Linked DNA regions of Homo sapiens. The protein of the gene in region 1 interacts with the protein of each later gene in a pairwise test. Each region holds a gene or a part of one and is shown on either strand. Other genes may lie near its edges.

The links. Proteins that work in one complex are often made in the same cells at the same time.
Region 2: the proteins of HIP1 (region 1) and SPMAP2 interact in binary tests that used the Homo sapiens proteins (3 or more experiments, as listed by UniProt).

The regions. Positions count from the first base shown.
Region 1 is NC_000007.14:75,557,313-75,561,061, forward strand, and holds part of HIP1 (huntingtin-interacting protein 1), read right to left. Parts: intron 2,604-3,749; coding exon 2,420-2,603; intron 944-2,419; coding exon 855-943; intron 459-854; coding exon 342-458; intron 1-341. UniProt on the Homo sapiens protein: Plays a role in clathrin-mediated endocytosis and trafficking. Involved in regulating AMPA receptor trafficking in the central nervous system in an NMDA-dependent manner. Regulates presynaptic nerve terminal activity.
Region 2 is NC_000019.10:369,358-373,106, forward strand, and holds part of SPMAP2 (sperm microtubule associated protein 2), read right to left. Parts: intron 3,344-3,749; coding exon 3,274-3,343; intron 2,814-3,273; coding exon of another isoform or gene 2,807-2,813; exon of another isoform or gene 2,015-2,806; intron 1,966-2,014; coding exon 1,848-1,965; intron 1-1,847. UniProt on the Homo sapiens protein: May be involved (but not essential) in spermatogenesis.

The sequences.
Region 1 (3,749 bases):
ACTGCCGTCTCAAAAAACAAACAAACAAAACAAACAAACAAAAAAAAACGCTCATCCCTCTCTCTCTGCCACCCATGTGTTTTCCTTTCCTCAAACTCTCCACCAGCCTCATCCTTGGAAAGCCTTTGTTGATTAACCCCAGGCAACTTGGGTCCTTCCATTACTTCGTGTATGCACTGGTGACGGTGTTTTGCTGTTCTGTGTGGCCACCATGGTGTGCTCCCTGCTGTGTGATGCCAACCGACCCACAGAACTGCCCATGGAGCAGAAGGCCACAAAGCCCCCGCCACCAACTCAACAGCCCCCTCCCTCATTTCCCGAGTGCTCCTCGTCCCACTCACCTTCCGCTGGCCCTGGTCACTGATGCGCTCCAACGAATCCTCCAGCTCTTTTTTCTCTCGTTCCAAATCTACCTGGGCTTGTCTGGCCATGGACACCTGTTTGGTCACCTCTGCATTCTGCAAAAGAAGAACAGTGTCTTGAACCAGGAGATCCCAGGCTTAGAGGACATCCTCCTTCTAGGACAATCATACTCAGGCTGTGCGTGCCCTAGAGTCAGACACAGGAATCACTTTCCTACCCACAGCCGGAACAGAGCCATCACCTTCAGATGCTTGATGCTCAAATATTTACAAAATAATAAAGAAGGTGGGTGACCTACATGGGATTGGCACCCAGGACACAGCCCAAGACACAGAGGCAAGGAAGCCTGAAAAGGTGTGGTTCCCGAGATGACGGCAATGCCTTAGAGATCAATGTAGGGGTTGCTGGCCCCGGGGAAGCCACAGGCCTGAGCCGCTCTCTCCCTAGAGGTGCAGGGCCTGCAGGATGGTGACAGGGGCTGAGGGTCTTACCTTCCGCAGCAGGTCAGCGTGGTTCTGAACCAGCTCGCTGTACTTCTCCTTTAGCTTGCTATATCGCTGTTCATTGGCTTGAGCTTTCCCTGTATTGTAAAGGACCAAGGTGAGGAGTCTAACCTAGCAGGGACCCTTGCCTTCCTTGCAATGAGCCAGGGTCCCTAGAAGGTCCTCCTTGTTTTGTTTTGAGACAGTCTTGCTCTGTCACCCAGGCTGGGGTGCAGTGGCACAATCACTGTTCACTGCAGCCTTGACCTCCTTGGGCTCAAGTCATCCTCCCACCCCAGTCTCCTGAGTAGCTGGGTTCATGGGCACACGCCACCACACCCGGCTAATTTTTGTAGAGACAGGGTCTCACTATGTTTTCCAGGCTGGTTTCAAACTCCTGGGCTCAGGTGATCCTCCCATCTCAGTGGGATTATAGGCATGAGCCACTGTGCCCGGCCAAAGATCTTCCTTTGATTTAGGAATGCATATATGCTTTTCTCCCTTGAAAGTCCTACTTACAGAAACTTCTCCAGGAAGTCATCTTTAAAAAGAATTCAACTAGTTAAAAATCAAGCCAGGGGCCAAGCGAGGTGGCTCATGCCTATAATCCCAGCACTTTGGGAGGCCAAGGTGGGTGGATCACCTGAGGTCAGGAGTTCAAGACCAGCCTGACCAACATGGTGAAACCCCATCTCTACTATAAATACAAAAATCAGCTGGACATGGTGGTGTGTGCCTGTAATCCCAGCTACTCGGGAGGCTGAGGCAGGACAATCCCTTAAACCTGGGAGGTAGAGGTTGCAGTGAGCCCAGATCACACCACTGCATTCCAGCCTGGGCGACAGAGTGAGACTCCACCTCAAAAAAATAAAACAAATAAATAATCAAGCCAGGGATTCATGCCTCTTCAGCACTTACATACATGGCATTTATTCTATGGGGGCTTTCAGCTTTTTAACAAATTTATTTGAAATTTTTTAGAGACAAGGCTCTCTGTTGCAGAGGCCGGAGTGCAGTGGTGCAATCAGCTCACTGCAGCCTTGAATTCCTGGGCTCAAGCGATCCTCCTGTCTCAGCCTCAAGAGTAGCTGGGACTACAGGCACGTGCCACCATGCCCGGCTAGTCTTTTTTATTTTTTCTAGAGATGGGGTCTTGCTATGTTGCCCGGGTTGGTCTTGAACTCCTGGCCTCAAGCAGTCCTTCCATCCTGGCCTCCCAGAGTGCTAGGATTACAGGCATGTGCCACTGTGCCCTCAGCTTTTATGTCAATTTCTTTGTTAGGACCTCAATCCTCTCTCCTTCTCCCTTAGTATCCACTGCCCAGGGCAAGCACTTCAGTGCTGTCTTCTGTATTTCCCATCTCTGTGCTCAGCGGTGCCTCGCACACAGCTTTGTGCCTGCAGGACTCAAACCCGCCCTCTGGACTGAGGCTAAGAGCTGGCATTCCTAGCTGTTTCTAGAAAGACAGTCTGGGTCTCCCCCACCCAGCCTCTGTGCCGCATCCTGAGTCCAGCTGGGCTCTGCTGCCCGCGCCTGCCCCCGGGGCCCGCCCCCGCCCCCACCCACCGCTCACTTTCTATCTCAGACAGGCTCCGCTGAGCCTTCTCGGTGTCCTCCCGCTGCCTCCTGAGCTCGTCCAGTTCTGCCCGCAGGAATTCACAGTCGTCGGCCGCCTGCTGCCGCAGGTGCTGCTGCTCGGCCAGATCTGCTTCCAGCTCGCTGACGTGGCCCTTCAGCTGCAGCACAACCCGCTGGCTCTGTGGGGGGACTCCGGTCATGAGGCCAACCGCCCACTGCCACGGGTCACGGGCATGGGCCGGAGAAGCGGGTCCTACCATGCTTCCAAGTAAATACCTGATTCCCCTAAGTCAACTCTCCACGTCCCAGGAGGGTTGGACCATCTGGTCATTAGGAGCCCCTCAATCAACAACAATAACAGGGGATGATGGCCGGGGAATTGTGGTCCTCTTTAGAGTGGCTGGGGGTAGCAGTGGCTGTCCCTGTGGGTGAAGTCACCTGACCAGCCACTGTGAGGGGCGGTTGTTAATATAGCACCAACATTGCTCACAGCTGTCTCTTCTCTTTTTTTTTTGGCGGTTGGGGGAGGGGAGGGACAGGGTATCACTATCACCTAGACTGGAGTGCAGTGAGGTGATTATGGCTCACTGCAGCCTCAACCTCCTAGGCTCAAGAGATCCTCTAGCTTCAGCCTCCCAAGTAGCTGGCATTACAGGTATGCACCACCATGCCCAGCTAATTTTTAAAAAGTTTTTTGTAGAGATGGGGTCTTGCTATGTTGCCCAAGCTAGTCTTGAACTGCTGGGCTCAAGTGATCCTTCTGCCTGAGCCTTCCAAAGTGCTGGGGTTACAGGCGTGAGCCACTGTGCCCGGCAAACCAATCTCTCCTTATCGCCATGTGAGAAGGTCTGGTCTTGTTCTCCACAGCTTCTCAGCCTCGTGGGGACCAAGGTCATCTCTGGGTATCAATCACATGGATACTGTGCCTGGCCTAAATGCTGTCCTCATGGCATGTAAAATGGAAATGCATTATGACAGAGAACACGGGAAGACCTGGTTCTTTTGGATTTAGCATTTCTACCAGTTTTTATTTGGTTTTAGAGACACAGGTCTCGCTATGTTGCCCAGGCTGGATTCAAAACTCCTGGGCTTGAGTGATCCTCCTACCTCAGCCTCCTGAGTAGCTGGGATCACAGGTGCACACCACCACGCCTGGCTTGTTTCTACTAATTAACCTACCCTAAGGATGTGGTCCAAAAACTGTCTAGGTGATGCAATTTTTTTTTTTTTTTTTGAGACAGAGTCTTGTTCTATCGCCCAGGCTGGAGTGCAGTGACACGATCTCAGTTCACTGCAACCTCTGCCTCCCAAGTTCAAGCAATTCT
Region 2 (3,749 bases), on another chromosome or scaffold:
AAGACGGCGGCCAGGATGAGGCAGGCCTGAGCTTCCACTCCCCGCCCGGAGAATGCAAGATGGAGGCCACGACGGGGCACACCAGAGCTCACTCCCCTCCCAGAGAATGCAAGATGGCAACCAGGAAGGGGATCGCCTCAGTTCATTCCCTGCTTGGAGAATGCAAGACGGTGGCCAAGATGGGGAAGAGCCTGAGCTCCCTCTCCCCACCCGGAGAATGCAAGATGGTGGCCAGGATGGGTTTCAGGCACATCCGTGTGAAGAAGCCTAAACAGGCTTTGTGTGAGCAATAAAAGCTTTTAATCGCCTGGTGCAGGCGGGCTGAGTCCGAAAAGAGAGTCAGCAAAGGGTGGTGGATTATCAATTGTTCTTATAGGTTTTGGGATAGGTGGTGAAGTTAAGAGCAATGTTTTGCGGGCAGGGGTGGATCTCGCAAAGAACCTTCTTAAGGGTGGGGGACATTACAAAGTACCTTGATCACTTAGGGTGGGGCAAAAACAAATCACAATAGTGGAATATCATCAGTTAAGGCTATTTTTACTTCTTTTGTGGATCTTCAGTTACTTCAGGCCATCTGGATGTATACGTGCAAGTCACAGGGGATGCGACGGCTTGGCTTGGGCTCAGAGGCCTGACAACAGGGACAGCCTGAGCTCCCACTTCCCACCCAAAGAATGCAAGATGGCCAGGATACGGCGCACCTGGGCTCCCACTCCCGGCCCAGACAATGCAAGATGGTGGCCAGGATGGGGAGCGCCTGAGCGCAATCCCCACACAGAGAATGCAAGACGGCGGCCAGGATGGGGAGAGCCTGAGCTCAATCCCGGCCCAGAGAATGCAAGACGGCGCCGTCACTTTGGACAACCATTGGTCAGTTTTTTAAAAGTTACATATACCCAGTAACTGAGAAATTCCAATTCTGGGTATTACCCTGGAGATATGGAAACTTACGCCTCCACAAAAAGCTGTATACAGATATTCACAGTTTTGTTTTTTTTTTTTGAGGCGGAGTCTCGCTCTGTCGCCCAGGCTGGAGGGCAGTGGCGCGATCTCGGCTCACTGCAAGCTCCGCCTCCCGGGTTCAAGCGATTCTCCTGCCTCAGCCTCCGGAGTAGTTGGGACTACAGGCGCCCGCCACCACCCCCGGCTAATTTTTTTTTTTTTTTGTATTTTTAGTAGAGACAGGGTTTCACCATGTTAGCCAGGATGGTCTCGATCTGCTGACCTCGTGATCCACCCGCCTCAGCCTTCCAAAGTGCTGGGATGACAGGCGTGAGCCACCGCGCCCGGCGTATTCACATCAGTTTTATCGTAACAGTCCTAAACTGGAAGCCACCCAAATACCCTTCAGTGGGTGCCTGGATCGGCAAATTCTGGAATTGAACCGGCGACGACAAGGAATAAACTACCGACGCACGCGAGAGTCTCAGATGCAGGGCGGGGGGCGGCAGAAGCCGGGTCAAGCCCGCAGGCTGCGGGGTTCAGACTTTCGGAAAAGCAAAAGGTACAGGGCGTAGAGCGAGGTCAGTGGTTGCCGGTGGCCAGGAGTCCGGCCTGAGCTGGGGCGAGAGATGAGCGCTTTCTGAACACCTGAGATAAGACTGTTCTAATTCCTGAGTGTGAGCTGGAAGCTTTGGGATCCACCCGGACTGAAGCGCAGGGAAGGATGACCCCTGGGCGGCTCTGAAGACAGTGAGAGATCAAAAGAAAGCTGCTCCCAGACAAAGGCAGCCGCCCTGTGCAGCTTCTCCTCCTCCCCTGACTCCCAAACGCAAAGCCTCTTTCACTCTCTGCCGGGTCCCAGCCCGCCTGGCGGGGGTGAGTCGCGGGGGGCACGGGGCACCCACCTCAGACATGGGCATGCTCCAGAAGTTATCACGAATCTTCGGGGCGGCCAGTTCCTTCAGGCGACTCGACGCTCTGTATTCCAGGGAGGACCGAGGAATGGGCCAGACAGGAGTCGTCCTGGGGGAGGTCCCCATTTTAGACCAGCAGCTCGGCCGGGGGTGGGGGTGTGTGTGTGTGTGTGTGTGTGTGTGTGTGTGTGTATGTGTCTGTCTGTCTTTCCCAGCTCCTCCATATGTGTCTGTCTGTCTTTCCCAGCTCCTCCTCTGTTTCTGGGGTTAAGAGAGCCTGGGAGAGTGGTGAGTTTTGAAAGCGTCTCCAAACAGGGATTCGTAAAGAATTTCTAAGAGTTCTCAAGTACAGAGCTACCATCTCCCAGGGTTGTCTCTGCTCAATGTGCAACGTCCACCCTCAGGTCCAGGCCTTCTCCATTCCCTTCTGGGACGGCAGCTCCTCCCAGGCCTTCTCTACACACCCCCATCATCAAGAGCCTGGCGTGAGCACTTGGACCCAAGGGATGAAAGTGTCTGTCCTGAGGTTGCAAAGCTGGGGAAAGCGAAGGACAGCTGAGCTCCCGGGGCTGTGCCTTCTGAAATCAGGTCTCAGCTATGCCTCTGCTCGGAAATAAAGCCGCATTTCATTGATTCTAAGGCAAGGTCTCCACATTGAACAGGTCTGAGGTTAGGATGCAGCTTACGAGTGCTGCCAGCCAGATGGCGGAAGTGTCCTGGCTACATCTGGCTGCATCTGTGTGTGCTGTTCACGTGATCTGCACTGCTGCTTCTACAGGAGTTAAGTTTAATTACAGTTTAAATTGTCTTCAGGTCACAGTATGATTTGGCGTTAAAAAGTGCACAGAGGCGTGAGGACAGTGTGTGCGACACCCACATCAACGTCTGTGTCAGAAGTGGTTCAAAACAGTTGGACACACTTCCGCTGTCTACTTCAGCTGTGCTTTCCTTCATACGCTGCATAAAAGATGGGTAATTATATGTTGTGTCTAAATAACTAAAGATCACTTTTAACAAGCACAGGGGCTGTAAGTGGTAAGAAAGAATTTTGTACATAAAATACTAATGTGTCTTAGAATTTCCACCTTTTTTGAGTAAACAAAATACAGTCACAATGGTGATAACATCTGAGCACGCACTGTGTCAGGCGCTGTGCAAATCCCCGTTCACGGGTGCCCTCCACCACCATTCCACAGCTGGCAATGCAGTTGCACGGGGCCAAGCAGCCTGCTGGGGATGTGGACTGGGAAGCAGCCTGCTGGGGATGTGGGCTGGGAAGCAGGCCAGCCCCGTCTGAACACCAGCTGTCTAGGGCTAGGACCTGGACCCTTTCCCACACAGCATCCTGTCAGGCGAGAATAAGGCATTTCTGCCAAACTCTGCCTTCTGAGTAGCCACCCAGCCCTCCTTCCCCCACCTGTTGTTGTTGTAATATTCCAGGTAGAATCTCTTGGGCCGAGACAGTTCCTCCACGCGGCGGGACACCGCTATGCAAAATGGGAAACGGAGTCAGTGAACCCCAGTGTCAACACCCTGCAGTTCCCAGGGGCTTCTGCATGCGGAATTCAGCTTTTCATGAGCTTGGGCAGGAGGCTGAATTGGAAGAACTGTGGGCAGAGACAACTGGGGGCCAGACACCCTGCAGAGAGAAGATTTGCTGTCCCTGATTTAGGGACAATGGGCTCAGAGGCTTGAAGGTCCTTTCTCGGACACCGGATGGGAGTGGCAGGGCTGGAACAGCAGCCCAGCACCGTGGCTCCTCAACGGGGCTCAATACAGATCCAGGGACCCACAGGCTGGGAAAATGGGTTTTGTTCTGAAGTTAGTACAAGCCTGGGGTTTCCAGGGGCCTAGTGATGACTGTAGGTCTAAAGTCAAGAACAGCACAGGAGA